Regions from separate parts of the Homo sapiens genome. Here region 1 is linked to region 2. Evidence: fine-mapped QTL for protein levels in blood plasma. A gene starts in region 2. The other region holds a variant in brackets. All regions are shown on one strand. Distances are from middle to middle. Region 1 has its middle 42 kb from the start of IL1R2. Region 2 holds the start of IL1R1 (interleukin 1 receptor type 1).

What was found. PIP is the posterior inclusion probability: the model's chance that the variant is causal. Protein levels are from antibody-based Olink assays in UK Biobank. Linkage for the fine-mapping came from a reference panel and not from the study's own genotypes, which makes the PIPs less certain.
Region 1: its variant is fine-mapped to the plasma level of the IL1R1 protein (UK Biobank, PIP above 0.99).

The regions. Positions count from the first base shown.
Region 1 is chr2:102,029,461-102,037,980 of GRCh38, reverse strand. No RefSeq gene overlaps it. Among named protein-coding and RNA genes, the nearest start is that of IL1R2, 42 kb to the right of the region's middle. The variant TTTG/G (reference allele first, on the strand shown) is at 4,063.
Region 2 is chr2:102,138,303-102,146,302 of GRCh38, reverse strand. It overlaps IL1R1 (interleukin 1 receptor type 1), which reads right to left and starts at 3,557. Exons shown (of 12, transcript NM_000877.4): 1 at 3,283-3,557. RefSeq lists enhancers at 2,340-2,634, 2,400-2,694.

The sequences.
Region 1 (8,520 bases), 110 kb after region 2:
TGACTTTGAAGATACGTCTCCTGAGTTTCCCCAGGATGGACAAAGCTGAGGAAAAGCTGACTCAGAAAGACAAGGCAGGTCCAAGTGTTTGCCGAGAAAAATGCACTCAGCACTCTACATAATTCCCAAAGGACTTTCTTCTAAAAATATTTTTATTAGAGTCTGAAATAATTTAATCACAGACTTGTATTTAGTCAGAGCTCAGCAAGTACTCCGTGCCGAACAGCGATATTCTTTCAGGCTTTTAAACAGGAAACTGAATCCAGAGAGCAGAAAACACAGAACCGTGCCCATGATGACTTGGAAAAGTTACCCTCTGCTCACACCAAACTCCCAAGTGTCCCCTATTTCATTGGGAACACATTAAGGATGAAACTAAAGGGGAGAACTTGAGGGTTCTTTTCCCAGTGAGATAAAGGAGCTCAAGGCTGGAGTGCCATTGACAGCCTGGCAGCAGGCAATCTTAAAGAGGAAGAAGACTGGTAACTGAGCAGGAGGGAATGATTCCTGGGCTACTAGTCAAATCTTCTCCTTAGATTACAGGGAAGACCTTCCTTGTTAGCTGTGAGAACATCCCACCGCCGACGGATACCAAGCACCAACGTATTTCATCCATTCATTCATTTGACATGTCTTTGACATTGGGAAACCTGTAGACCTCGGCTTTCCAAACAGCATCGATCAGGCTGGATTCCTCTGAGGGATCCAGGGGAACACATGGATAGTTAAACAGACCACTGGGGGAAAACACTGGGACACGGACACGCCAGGAATAAGTACTGAACTTCCTAGATGGACGTGGAGGTGTTGGACAGGGACTTTGCCTTGCTTGTCTTTAAAATCAGAAACAGAGGGTGTTTTGGCAAGTCTAAATTTACTGATTTTAAAGCTCCCACAAGGAAGACCCACATGAGACAAAAATCTAGAGGAGTATGCTAGGATAAAGCAGTAAGTGAATGAATGAATTTCTGGTACAAAAAGCAAAGGGCCGGGAGTACCAGACCACAGGTGTTAGAAAGAAAAGAAGTCAAACCAGGGGTTCCAGCCCATGCCACTCATTAGAATCCCCCAGGACCCCAATCACTTACAGCAGAGGCCCTGGGCATGGGTCCAGACACCAGTGGCATTGTTGTTTCACCTCTCTAGATGATCCCAGTCTGCCGCTGAGGACCCACGCTTAACTGGTACACAGTCACTCGAGGCATACCTCTCCACTTCCAAAAAATATCTATGCAACAGAAACACCATACAGCATCTTGAACATTGAAAAGCCGAGGAAGAGAATTGCATACTGAGGAGTACATGGCAAGAAGGTCATTCTCACCCAGGGGTGGAAGCACTTTGAGTGATCTGCTGAGGGTCATTTTGCACCTGGAGTGCGGCTGGGGAAGAGCCCTCTTCTCAGAAAAGGTGCAGAGGCCTAGAAAGTTCCATACCAGGAGGTCATGGTCCCTGTCGCCTTGAGGACAACAGAGTGGGGAAGCTCTGTCACTAAGACAGAAGCCAAATCATCATGGGCTTACGGGAAAAACACAGTGAGAAGCTCCGAATATGCTAGATGGGGAAGAAAGTCTCCAAAAAAGGACTGGAGCCTGGGAGACTGGGGAGCTACCCCTGAAGATTATTCAAGAAAGCCCAGGGTCCCAAATGCTGAGATAAGATGCACGGTGAAATTTCCCCTAGATGTGACAAAGGTGGTACTGTCACTAATTCCTGCTGGAATAATTGGCCAAAGAGAGCTAACATTCCCAAGTCATGGGTTCTAGACCTAACCATAGAAATCGAGGTGCTCCCACTGACAGCAGGAGTAAGAATGTCCTGGAGGGCTTGCGGAACGAGGATACTGGGCCACCCTGTGGCTCTAATCAGCAGAGGGATGCTGATGATACTGGACTGAGGTCCACCTGCATCCCCCATTCTTTCCCCTGATATCTCCGAACTGCTGCTGTGGTCACTGTTACTGCTGGGTATGGATTCCTGGGAGCAACATTTGTCCAGAAAAACTGCTCCAGGGACCAGAGAATGGCTTGTCTTAAAATTCATTGCAGGTGGGGTCAGGGCTGTGCTGATCTTGTATAAATGCCTGGGACACATTAAAAGGGGACATGCGAGGCCAATGCAATGCCCTAAGGAGCCACACCCTTCCTTGCAGAAGACGGAAGACAGCCTTGACTGCAGTCCCCTCTCCTGGATGGAGCAGCCTCTTTGCTGGGATGGAGCAAGAAGGAGCTGTGGAGAAACTCAGGCTTTAATTTTAAAATTTTTGAGGCTTAGTGTACATCCTTTTTAGATATTGCCCAGGCTACAAATGTAAGACTACATTTCTATGCGGCACTAAGCTTTTGCTGCTAACGCTTCTAAGGTTTTATGGCAGTTGTTTTACCATGCTTCATAAAGGATATTTGGTATTCTTGAGAGAATAAAATAAAATAAAATTGGGAGCATATTTATTTTGTTGGCTGTTTACTTTTGGCCACTTAATTTCTGTGCAGAGCTTCTGATGAGCTGTAGCAGACAAGGCAGGATGTAATTGTGTTGTAGGACCTTTGTCCTTAGTTCAGCTAACAGCCAGGTTCTTGTCACATGGCCATGAGAAATTAGGCTTGCAGATACTTTGAAGGGTGAGACAAGTGGAATTTATTGGGCAAAAAGGGGGGAAAAAAGAGAAACAGGGACCCTCCGCAAAGGCAGAGCACTGCTAGTGTGCTTCCCGCCTCGCAGATTGAATCCCTGGTTCCACCCAGGAAGAGGACGAGCCAGGCTCCTCCCCGCCGCAAAAGGCTTGAACTTCCCAAGTCTCCACCCCAGTGCGCAGGCCTATTGGAGTTTTTCCGGCAACCCCTTTGCACTTGGCTGTCCCAGTTGTATTAACCATGTGTTTCTGATGCTTTGGTACGTGGGACCTTGTTGCTTTGATACCTGGGCCTTTCCCTGGTTTAGCCAATTCCTAGAGATAGTAAACAACTTGCCTACTTCTGCAACATGCTTTTCAAATGCAAATCGACCAATCCAGAGCCACACCCCAACCACCTCTTTTATGGAACTCTCACCCTCAGGGTCACTATCCACACCCAGTGAGGGACAGCCCATGCACCAAGAGCCCAAGGAAACCATTCAAACCAGCCAATCCTAAGCCTGCCTACCCTGCCTCACCCACTCCTTCCCACAGAAACCATCGGAAGAGCTCTCGCCCACACCTTCCCCTCACTCCCTCAGCCTCCTGATCGGCCCTAGTGCTTCTCTGGGCACCCTCCCAACCGCCATGGTGTGGTGTGCCCCTCCTGCTGGGATCTGGGGGATACCACTGTATTTTCAATGGCTATTGTCTCCTGATCTGTTGGCCTCACCAAACCTGAATAATAAAGCCTATATTTGAAAACAGCAATTTGGGGTGGGAAATATAACAAGGTGAACAGTCAGCCTGAGGTATAGTATGGCTTTGAGACTAATTTAATTCACAGACTGTTCTTAGCTGTTTCTGTGCTTTCTGGGGGCTAAATCCACATTGTCCCTGCAGTGGGCTCAGAAGGATCCAGGGACTCACACTCTTATTTCCTGAGAGAGTAGCCTCAGACCCAGCGGCAGGACTGCACGCTGGACGCCTCACCTCCATCCAGTAGGACAGTGACGCCTTGATTGGTCACAGGCCACAGGCTAAGAGAACAAAAAGCTGGGAAATACTGTAGGAGAGGACACTCGGTTCCTACTTCTGATTCTTCCTTCCCTGTGAAGGAATCCTTATTACAGTCCCCCTGGTCCCCCAGATTCCAGATGTACCTTCTACCGGTTTCGGGAGATGAACTCTTTGTGGTAGCTAGTCTTCCCCTAGAAAAGCAAATATTTGCTCTGCTCCTGACTGTAACCTTGACTCAAACCAGCCCCTGCATGGGCCAGCTGTTTCTCAGCTGTCGAATCCTGGGATTCGGTATTAAGAAGCCCATTGCTGCTGCACATCTAAACCACACTCTCTAGGAGGTAATTTTTAAATTAGGTGAGCTTCAGTTTCCTTACCTCTAAAATGTGAATTATAATCTTTGCCTGGTGGATTTTTTTTTTTTTTTT[TTTG/G]AGGATTCAATTGAGCAAAACATGTAAAATCTTGCACAATGTAGACATTTAGATGTTGGTTTCTCCTCCTTCATTCTTGCTTTATTTCTCCCACTCTTTTTTATCTAAAGCTTTCTCTCCCCTTGTCCTGGAAGCTGGCTGAGTAGTAGTTCCTGGCCCCTGAAGCTCGGCCTCCACCAGGGGTCTGGTAGCTGTCTGGGCAGTTTCTGAAAAACCACTGGGCAGTGGGTTCTGGGAGTTCCTTTGTAGGAGGTTTTGTTTTGCTTTGCTTTTCTGAAGAATGAGGAAGTGGGTTTTGCAGGCATGCCAAGGAGGAGGAGAATGTGCTGGTGCCTGAGCCCTGTGGGAGGGAGCTTTCTAGCCCACCACCCCTGCTTTGAGGACTGGCTGAACCCATGAGCCAAGAAAGGAGGAGCTTTCAGGAGTGCACAAGCTGGCTCCAGCACGGAAGCTGGCAGAGGCTACAGCCCAGGTGGCGTCTGGATGGCTTCTCCACTGGTGGCAATGCCTTCTTGGAGCCCAGTAGCAGTAACGAGTAGCCCTGATGGGTGGCATGGGCAGAGATGCCAATGGGTGAGGACCGCAAGAACAGGAAAGCAACCACAAAACACAAAGCACCTTTGTGTGTCCAAGTGAACTATTGGCAGGACATCATGGAAAAAACCAATGAGAGTTGAGTGTAGAGACAGGAGCAGAGAAACTTAGCTGAGTCCCACTGATAAGACCCATTTGCTCACACAGGCTGGAAAAGTCCAAGTGACACACGCTGTATCCATTCTGCAGACACTTCTTAAATGCCTGTGCCGCAGCAAGACACCGTGCCCGGTGCTGGGGTGCATCAAGGAACGAGAAGGCTCCTGCCTTGAGGAACTTACAAGAAACAAACATCCCACCCTTTCTGTGAAAGAGTCCCTATATATTCCCATAGCATTCAAAATACTTGAGAGATCACATTTGTTTTTTAGCTCATAAATTATTCTTGGCTTCTGTTGTTGATGTCTGCTCTCATCCTTAGTTCTTGCAGAAGTGGCATTTATTACATAAGACGTGGGTTTTTCCTGTGGGCAGTGCATGGAAGTGTGAGGTTTCCAAAAACTATTTATCACCCCCTCTCCCCAGCCTTTGTAGGGTTGGGGGTGAAAAAATTCACCTTCAGAAAGTTAAAACAACAGAATCAACAAAAAATAGAGGAGATAGGCCACTTTAAGAAAAGAAACCACATTGTTTCACTTGTCCATCTGTTTGTGTGTTCAAATTGGACTTAGGGACACAGAATTAGGTTAGTCATAATCCTTGGTTCAAGACACAGATTCTATATTGGTCCCTGAATAGCTTGTGTTTTTTTTTAATCTGTTTGTTTAATAATAAAGTAAACAATCACAGTCTACTACCTAACATGAGATCTAGAACTTAATGAAGTTTATGTTTTCCTAATCCATCCCAACCCTGATGTAATCACTATCCAAACAAACACACACACACACACACACATCTATATTTAAGAGCATATATATGACAAAAACTACATTTTAACCGTGTGTGTGAATATATATGAAGATGCTTTCACATATTCGAGAGAGAGCATATTAACTTTAGTTGTTTTCACTTTATGTAAAAGGACATCATTCTAAGAAATGTTTCTGGGACTCATTCAATAATATATATCTAAGATTCATCCATATTGTTCCATGTTGTTTTTTACTGTAGTGCATTTTATTACTTGTAAGAGCTACACATTCTCTTGTCTAGCGGGTATTGAGTTTTTGCTGGATTGTATTTTACTCTTTATTATGGAAGTTTTCAAACATATACAAAAGTAGAAAGAATGATATAAGGAAGCAGGGTGCAGTCATCACCAAGGCCAACAGTTATCAACATTTGGCCAATCTTATTTCATGTATTCTCCCATCCACCACTGGATAACTTCGAAGCAAATCTCACACATCACCCATAAAAAATTTAGTCTGCCTCAGCCAGGCTCGGTGGCTCACGCCTGTAATCCCAGCACTTTGGGAGGCCGAGGCTGGTGGATCACGAGGTCAGGAGATCGAGACCACGGTGAAACCCCGTCTCTACTAAAAATACAAAAAAAATTAGCCAGGCACGGTGGCGGGCGCCTGTAGTCCCAGCTACTCGGGAGGCTGAGGCAGGAGAATGGCGTGAACCCGGGAGGCGGAGCTTGCGGCGAGCTGAGATCGCGCCACTGCACTCCAGCCTGGACGACAGAGCAAGACTCCATCTCAAAAAAATAAATAAATAAATAAATAAATAAATATTTAGTTTGCCTCTTAGATAATAACCTTTTTTGAATGCAGCAATGCAAATATCACACTTATTCCTTAATATTAGCATAAATCCAGCACTCAAAATTCCCCGATTGTCTCGCATCTTTTCTACCTGTGTGACCCCACACTTCTGAAATAGTGGAGGGGAGGAAATGCGTAACCTGTGAGGTCAAGGCAGAGTCTGAAAGCCGATGGTGGTTCTCCTCCGGCTGCAGTCAGCTCCTTTTCTGGGTCATTGCTGAAACAGCCAGAATCTAAAGCGGGGGACTCCAGAGAGCACTGGAGAAGTTCGAGGAAGGAAGAGAGATGCAAGCGCGTGGCCCCAAGCCTGAAGATAAAGAAAAGGCAGAAGCAGTCAAAGAACCCTGTGCAACGTCCTCACCGAATCCTCCTTCTCAAACCTCACTCTCCTCTCCTTTCCGGTTAAAATCTAATAAGGTGTTCAAAGGCCTCTGCCGGCCCCTCCGTACTTCTCCCTCCCTGAATGCTTAGAAAACAGAAGAAGGAAAGAGGAGATGATAACAGGAAAATAGAAAAGCGAGGGTCAAAAGTTAACTGCTCAAAACCGCCTTCACCTAAACCAGGCATTGGCAAACTTTTCCTGTAAACGACCAAATAGTAAATATTCTAGGTTTTGCCATCTCAACTACTCAACTCTATCTTCAAAGAGCAAAAGTGGCCAAAGACAGTCTGCAAACAAACAGGCAAGGCTGTTTCCTAATACTCTTAATCCACAGAAACAGAGGGCAGGCTGCATTTGGCCCACAGGCTGTGGTTTGTCAACACGTAGTCCAAGTACAACAATTTTTATTTCTGTCTATTCCTCCTATGTTTTTGATTATTAAACAGTTACTATAGTTGAAATAGAAAAATAGGAAAAATGGAAATATAAAATATAGCTAAATAGCTAAGTTAATTTGGACTAAGTGATTATCCCCATTTTTCAGATGAGAAAATTGATGTACTTTGAGATTAAAGGATTTGCCCAAGATCACAGAGGCACCATGTGGCAGTGCTTGAACTTGAACTCACAAAGTCTGCCTTCAAAGTCCAAGTTTTTAAGTTTTCTCCTTGTCTAGATGCAAACAAATGTCAATATTGTAACCATAAAAATTGTACAAAACAATGTATAATATTTCCTTAACACTGTAAACATTTAAGTCTTACAATTTTGATAATTTGGTCATTATAGTATTGATCATTATAATTGATAATTGCTGCATAATTTTTCATCATTGGGGTAATAAGTTTTATTAAATTATTTTATATCTCTAATGATTTTATTTTATTAAATTATTTCCTAAGCTAAATTCCCAGGAGTAGTATCACTGGGCATCTCTCAAACCTTGTTGTTATGTACTGGGGAAGAGAGTGCTGATTTGTGGCAACTGCCAATTTCTGTGGTGTAAAGACTCCACAATGGCCACAGATTTTAAGCTACCAACATGACATCACTGAACAGAGCCAAGAAGAGAGGCACATCCTGGGCTCTTGCAAGAAGATGCAAGCTGGTCCAGCACCCAACTGACTTGGCTCATGTTGCCTTTCTTCTTCCCAGCACCAAATTATAAATTGAATTAAAGTGTGAGAGTGTTTCATAAAAACTTTTAAACACTTGATAGTGTGTGAGTGCACTGGTATCTCAAATTTGCTCTAATTTACATCCCCTGGTTCTTACTGAAAGTGTCATTTTTCCATGAGTTCCTTTATGTGTGTCTCTTCTGCAATCCCCTACTCACATTTTTTCATCTGTAGGGTGATGATGCTACTATAAACTGAATGTTTGTGTCCTCCCAAAATTCATATGTTGAAACCCTAACCTCCAATACAATGGTATTAGGAGTTGTGGCCCTTGGGAGGTGATTAAGTCAGGAGGGCTGCCGTCTATTAGCCAGGAAGTGGGCCCTCACCAGACACCAAATCTGCTCGCACCTTGATCTTGGACTTCTCAACCTCCAAAACTGTGAGAAATAAATTTCTGTTGTTTACAAGCCACCCTAGTTATGGTATTTTGTTGTAGCAGCCCAAAAAGACTAAGACACATGCCTTTTCTATGACTTTGAATAACTCTACACATGATAGTTACTCATTCCTTGAACTTGTCTGACACAATTTTGTCTAAACCTTGCTTTTGTTATTTTGTTGTGCAGAAATTATAATGTAATTAAGC
Region 2 (8,000 bases):
GCATTAAGGGGGGTGTTGGGTTTTAATGAGGTGAGACCCACTGATGGAAAGTGACACCATCTAACTTTTCATTTAACTCTTAGTCATTAGTCATTGGCTGTATTTTCAGGGATCTATGAGTTCTCACATTTGGGACGCCAAATGTGCAGAGACCAGCATGGCTAGACTCTTCCTGTTCACAGCTCGCTGAACCATGATTACCGAACTGTGCTTACAGGGAGGGTCATTTCAAGAGACCACCGAAAACTCACTATTCTCACCTCTTTTTCAGGGATCTTTAAAAGAAACTTCCCACTTCTCTCTGTGCCAAGAATGCTTTTTTTCCTGAGCACTTTGCTTTCATCTTGAAGACACTGCTGGCTGTGCCCTGCAGGGTTTCCTCTTTCCCACTGCCTACAGGAAAGAGTATTTATGTATTTATGTTGTCAACCTTGGCTACCTGGGGGGCTTTGAAAATACCCGTGCCCAGCACGCCTCCAGAGATGCTAGTTTGTTTGCTCTGCATCCAGTCCTGGCATTTCCCTGAGTGCTTCAGGCAGTGCTAAGGTGCAGGCAGAGCTAAGACTCAGGCTTCCCTCCACATTCACGGCCCCACTTGAGTAACTTTAGCAGCATCTAGGTCATCAGGGTTTACACTGCACATGTCAAGCCTCATTTCAGACTCCACTTCATCTCCGCTCTTGTTTTCCTTTTACCCTACTTTTAATTTATGAGACCCCCTGTCCGCTCGTGGGCATGAGTCCTCTTGGGAAGTGATAGGTGTCTCCATCGTGCCGCCATGTGTGAGCTCCTGGATGTGCATGAAGAGGAGACAGCACAGAATCCAACATGCAGGCGACTGGGACCTTAAAGAGCTCCAGCCCCTTTCAGTACCTGGTGAGATAACTCGGGGCCAGGGCTTCCCACATGCTCCCTGCACTAGGCATGGCCGGGAGGCTCCAGCAGCATTTCCTGGACCCACAGCAGACAACCAGAGGAGAAAAAGGCTGCTGACAGTGCAGATCCTTGTCTTGTGCCACCAGCCCACCTCACAACCTCAAGAAGAAGAAAATGCAAACCAAGCACCCATTCACGGCAACAGATGGGTAGCATCCTGGAGCTGTGCCATGGCAGGTGAGCCACAGGTGCCCCTGACAACTTCTTTTAAAATGGCAAGAACCTAGTATATCCATTATGTAGCATAAGAATATAAGGATCTCTGTACTTCTCCACCCACTATGCTATGGTAGTTTCACCGCAATTGTCCAGCTTTGCCTCTCTTATTACTGAGATGTCTTCTCCATAATGTCCCAGCTTGCAGGTGGACACTCAGCTCGCACTGATGCATCCCAGCCACAGGGTTTCCATCTGCCCTGGTCCCTGTGCATGGCCAAGCCACAGAGTGTAGCTCCACCTCCTAGAGCTCCACATCCTAGGAACTGAGGCAAGGGACACCACAAACTTGGAGAATAGCAGCCCTGCGATTCTCTAGGGAACCACAGAGCTACATCTGTGCCCATCATCTCCTCGTCCTCTCCATTGGGGCTGCTGAGTGGTGTCCTCTAGGTAGCCAGTGCATCCACACCCTTGTACAAAGGGGCGGATTTCAAAGACCCCCCTTTTGAAGAGAGACTGCTGACATCCTATGTCTTACCAAGAAGACTCATGTCCATAAGGGGACAGAGGTTTTCACTTGTCGTATTCACCGCTGTCTCCCCACCACTCACCACAGTGCCTGGCACATAGTAGATAGTCAATAAATCTTTAATAAATTAGTGAATCTACTATTAAGCAGTGTTTCAACAATGGTGAGAGGTTGACTCAAAAGATGTCACAGGTTTCAGAACCATAAAAAAAAAACTTGATGTCACATTATGACATACAAGCAGGGCCTATTAGAAATGGGGGTGCTGCTCTGGGCCTGCCAAGGTCATGTGAGAATTCAGATCAAATATCCTTTCCTGAACAGCATGGAGGCCACATGAGAGTGGACGGGTGCAGGAGACGCTTCACACACAGCAGCTTGGCAGCTAGCCAGAGACTGAAAATAAATCAGAGTTCCACACCCCTGCCCCAGCAAACCCCATTCTCAAAGGCTCTACCTTTCTGTCTAGCATAAACGTTAACATCGGATATGAATACAGAATATTAAATGAAATATCAAATGAGATATCACACAATAAATTAGAAGGGATTGAGAAAGAAAACAATGCCAATAGCCGCTTGGTAAACTGGATGGCAAAAAGGACAGTGAACGTCCCCATGCCACCTCTGGCTTTCCTCAGCTCATCAATAGTCATGGAGTTCTGTTTCATACATTCAATGTCCAGAAGCCTGGCACCAAACCGCAGCGACTGAGACATCCATCACATTCCCGTGACGAATGGACCCTTGCTCCATGACCTCAAGAGCCCAAGTTCATGGTGTCCCTTGCCTCAGTTCCTAGAATGTAAAGCTAAATCACAGGAATGTGGCCATCTGAGAAGCTACCCTGCCCCAAAGATAAGGCAGTGGAGAGACAGCCCAGCAGGAGCCAGCATCTGCGTGCCTTCCCAGCGGCCTTCCTTCCTCCCGGCAGTGCAGAGGAGAAAGCCCTGGCAGGCAGGACGAGTGGGAGGGAAGACAGAGGGGGGCTGCATGCAGAGGTCTTACCCTCCTTCAGGACATCATCCTCCAACAAGTTGGTCACCTAAACTTCTGCTTCCCCCGCTGTAAAACAGGGGTGATGACAGCACCCTCCTCACAAGACTGTAGGGAGGGTAAAAGACCAGTTGCTGTCAAGGGCTTATAAACTGTAAAGTGCTGGGCATGACTGTTGTAAATAATGAGTGTCTTCTCAGCGCCTACTTGCTTGTAGCTACATTCCCTAGCACCATCCTTTATCTGGAGGGGCAACAAGTTACCCTCCCCAGTGTGGTTAAGGCCTCAGCCCTTACCTTGTTAAGGAGACTGACGGTCCTGAGCCTAACCTCTAAGAGGGACGCTCCTGAACCTGTAGAACGTAGCCGGATAGAAAACCTGAAAGCCATTCACACGGGAAGTCACACACCTACCTAGAACCCCCCTCCAGAACAACTGGCAAGTTCCTTCAAACGACCTGAACAACGTTAACTCTTGCTCCACACAAGAAACACACACACGCAGACCTCACCGCCATCCCCTTCTTACACAACACACTCTGACAACCAAGTGCAACTTAGGGAGGACGCTCACGGCGTCCTGCAGAGCGGGGGACTCGAAGGTGTCAAGGCTGTGGTCCGTCTCACCCCTACCTAGTCCCCGGATGCTCCAGCTTCCCCGTACCTGGACGGACGGCCGTGGAGGGTGATGGGATCCCAGCCCCGGGCGGAACCCGGCTCAGCTCAGAGGGGCGAGAGCCCTAGGAGCCGAGCGAGGAGTGCTTCGGTGCGCGGGCGCGCGATTGTCACATTCCTGCCGCTCCCTGGGGCGCGCGGGGCAGGCCGGCGCCCCCACCGCCCGGCCCGGCCGCTCTCCGGCTCCTCCCGGCCGGCGCCGCGCGCTCCGAGTCGGCTCCGGCCGCCGGCCACAAGCTGCGCCCGCCCTCGCGGCCGGGAACTGCCGGGCGCGGCTCTGGCTCTAGCCCCGCCGCTGCGGGGGCGGGGAACGGGCGGAGACGGCTCGGCTGGGCCAGTCCGCGGGCTGCGAGCGAGCTGGCCGGGTGTCCCAACTCTCCACCCGGAGGAGCAGGCGCGGCTGGACAGACCCCTGCGGACACCGCCCTGCCCCGGGTAGCCCGCAGGGGTCCCGCCGGTTCCAAAGCATTGGAGAGCTGCCGGGCGCTCTCGAGTCGCGGCCCGGCTCCTCCAGGGCTGCGGCGGCTCCACTAGAGTTAGTTGAGACAACTCACCTAGCCACTACGACCTGGCTCTACTACCCCCATGGAGCCTGGCTGCGACCCGCGAATTGAGTTGGCGACTCCAGGGCATCAGATCCCGAAGCAAACGCTCGCCAGAGCGACCTCTGGAGCTTGGTGCCTGGCCAGGGGCTCTCTCCGACTGGCTTTGTGCACTAATTTCTTTGTACCTCCGTTTCCTCTTCTGTGAAAAAGGGATCATAAGAGCACTCATCTCATGGAGTGGTTGAAAACAGTTTTTTAAAAAAAATGAGCTAATACATATAAAATAGTGCCAGGCCCAGAGCTGATACTACTCACGCGTTATCTGCTGGTTTCATTGTTGCTGTTACGCGCCCGGATGAAAAAAGCAATTTAAGTGTCATACTATAAAATCTTGATACCACACTTGGGGGCAGACAGGGTTTTTAAATTTTTAAACTTAAAACCCACTTATGCCCACCAGCTCACTTTGCCAATGAGAATTCACACCCAGGGGAATGGAAGGATGGCCAAGGTCATGCAGCGAACGAACGCCTGGCAGGATCACACCTTGGGCTCCTTGCAGGGAGAGGAGGGGAGGGCGCAGTGGTCGAGTCTGCAGCTCCCTCGGGCTTTCCCCCTCCACTTCGCTAGTCTTCAGCAAGTGACTGGCCCCTCCAGCTTGTTTGGAGGTCTTCATGGGCCATCCTCCAAGAAGAGTTTTAATAAATGATGATAGCTTCCTTCCTTCTAGTACACACCGCCCCTTCCTGCATCCCTTTCAGACTGGGCAGGCTCTTGTTCTCGTAACCCACCCCTGGATATGCCTCTTCAGAAACTCAAGAATTGAGGTAACCTGAGCCTCAGCTGCCCCCGGACAAATCCAGGCTGGAGGAAAAGATGAAGGAATGAGCAGCAGAAGCTCATCTGCCCTAAAAGCTGTCTTGCAACCTGGCATGATGACAATTTCTCATTCTTAAACAATCTGTTTCCAGAAGCTTTTATGGTTCCTTTTCCTCGAGAAAGCAGGCTTACATCAGAGGCCAGTGACGTAGCATTAAGAGAATTCCTTAACAATCCCAGCTCTCAATATTCCTTTATACAGCAGAAGGTCTCACAGCCTTGACTCCACTCAGAATCACCGGAGGACATGACACTCCTGTGTTCAGATCAGTCACGTCAGAGTCTCTGGGGCTGAGGCCCAAAAGGCAGTGTTTTTAAAGCTCCCAGGTAATTCCAGTGCAGCTGGGGTTGCAAGCAGTTGTTCCTCTAAGCTCCCACAGTGATGCCATTACTGTGAATCCTCCAACTGAAGGCTGCTTCAACCACGTGTCCAAATGGCAGTTCTGAAAGCTACAGCAGGTGGGCCTGGCTCCATGCTGTGGAACCAGCCCAGAAGCACTATGATGGTGAACATAAATTCGTCCTTCCATTTTCATAATGAAGGTTTTTAAGCAGTTTACAAGTAGAAAGTGAAATTGATTTGTGCAACCATGTAGAAATAAAATCCGTAATTTTTGTCTTTTTTAAGTGTTGTCCCCGTTCAGCCACTCCTACCCAGTGTCCTGCTAGACATGCAGGCCTCTAGACCCAGGTGGGACTCTCAAACACCCGCCCAACACAGAAATGGAATTGGAAGACCTCCTCTTTCTCACCTTATTACCACTGTTCTATCTGGGACCTTCAAGTCACCTTCTCCCTCACTCAGCCATCCTGACCACTTTCACTGACTTTCTCCTTCCCTTTATTTCCTTTCCTTGGATAACTGGTGTGCCTGCCTGTCTCACTCCATCCCCTGGGTAGGAGGCTTCCGTAAGGTGGAGACTGTCATCCCTGTATCCCTATCTGCTCTGGTCTCAGCACCACAAAAATGCTCTGAGCACATCAACATGCTTTAGTGTAAAGCCTACTGCTTACACTGACATTGTATGCTAGTGATGCAATCCAATGGCCCACATCTTGGACAAAAACTTACAAGAAACAGAAATAGCATTGTTAGCCTCTGGACACCTTCCGGGGTGTCTCCCTCCCACCTCTGAAATGCTTATCATTCAGGAGACTTAACTGAGACCCTGTCCCCTGAGGGTTTTCAGTTTCTCCTCCACTTGTCTAGCTGATCAGATCCCAGGACCCTCTTTGGGAAGAGTTTCTGATAATGCACATGAAACAAAATCATATTGACCAACACAACATAATCCAATGCCTGAAAAATAAAGCATCTCCTATGGCCCATGTGGCAGGACATTTTGAAAGACTGTCCATTATAAACATTAAGGCTAGGCTTGAAAGAAGAAGTATTTTATGTTTTTTTTCCTTGAACCTCCAAAGCCAAAGTATTGGACAACTTAGACCATAAGGTTTACATCATAAACCACGGAGTACAGAAGAATGTATGGTAATGTAAAGCTATTTGTTTTTGTTCCCACTCCAAGGAACAGAGTTGACCAGCAGGTGGGAAGGGGAGAAGCAGAGGGAGGGAGCTGCTCTTTACTAGACCCTGAAAGGTTTCTGAGGAGTGACTCAGAGCTTCCACTCTTCAGCACCACCTAATAAGAGAAATCCTGGTGTGTTAGGCCATTCCTACATTGCTATAAAAAAATACCTGAAACTGGGAAATTTATAAGAAAAGAGATTTAATTCTCTCATGGTTCTGTAGGCTATACAGGAAGCATGGCACTGCCATCTGTTGGGCTTCTGAGGAGGCCTCAGGAAACTAACAATCATGACAGAAGGTGAAGGAGGTGCAGGTACGTCACGTGGCCAGAGCAGGAGGAAGCGAGAGAGAGGTGCGGGAGGTGCCACTCACTTTTAAATGACCAGATCTCATGTGAACTCAGAGCAAAAGCTCGCTTATCACCAAGGGGATGGCCCAAGCCATTCATGAGGGATCTACCCCCATGATCCAAACAACTCCCACCAGCCCCCACCTCCAACATTGGGGATTACATTTTAACATGAGATTTGGGCAGGGACAAATATCCAAACTGCATCACCTGGCCTCCTCCTGACTGAAGAGGTTGATGGAGAAGACTGGAAGAGAGGGATGCCATTTGGCTTCCCAGCCTAGTTCTGGACACCACCAGGGTCATAGCAAAGCCCCCGTGTCCAACATGGCCTGAGCCAAACAGCAGGCCTGGCAGCAGATATGCCTGGGCCTGAGGACAGGCTGCCTTGAGAAAAGTCCAGTGCATCCCAGAGTGTTCAAGTAAAGCAGCTGAGAGTCCCCAGACACTCAAAGGGGGCAGTGCAGAAGCTAAGAAGACCAAAGAGCCCTTGGACCTAGTCTGATGGGACAAGCATGGTCCTAGCTGAAGTTTTCAAGAACAGAGGATAACTCATGGACCAGAACCCCTCCCGGGACACCAGGACAACCATTCTTCAGCTCGGTCCACTTTAGCCCCACCACCCCCAAAGAACTCCATTGATCCTTCAGAAAAAACAAATGCAGGGTTTGGAAGGAAAGAATTCTGAAGAGATTGTGTTACTACCCCCAGAGAGACTGAGTCTTGAACCAGTGGGGACAAAACAACTCTAAATTAGTGAGATCTTTTTCTACCATCAGGTGGAAATGAGAATTCCTAAGTCTAGTTGGCTTCAATTGTAAAGAAATAAAGAAAATTACATTTTTGCACAGAGGGCCTCTGTGATTCTTAATTTGCTACACATATTTTTGTTATTTATGGCACTGCCAGTAAACTCTCACAGAACCACAACAAAGATTGGAAACCACTGTCCTAGATGGACTTCCTTCTACAGCCTAGGTTTTTTATCGCTCCTCTCATACATTTTCCATCTGCTGACTTTCAAGTAACTATTTTCTTATCTACATTTCGCCTTACTTTTTCTCACTACAACTTCTCAATTTCAATCTACTCAACACTCTCCCTTTCCCTAGGCAATTGGTGGTGGGCTACTATGATTATCTTTCCGTTCAAATTCCTCTGATTTAATAAAACCTTTACCAACCAGAAAGCCACATGTGAACAGGAAATAAGAGCTGATGAGAAAGTGTGACATATTTCATAAGACGGTCATAGGCAATAAACCATTTCTTAACCTCCTTAATAAGAGGAGGAAGATAAGACATAAGTGACAGGCAAACCAGCCAACTGTTTGTGCTAATTGCAGCTTGAATCTTGCTCAGTGAAGGCAAATGAGTGAAAGAGGCTTCTTGCACCTGGTTTTT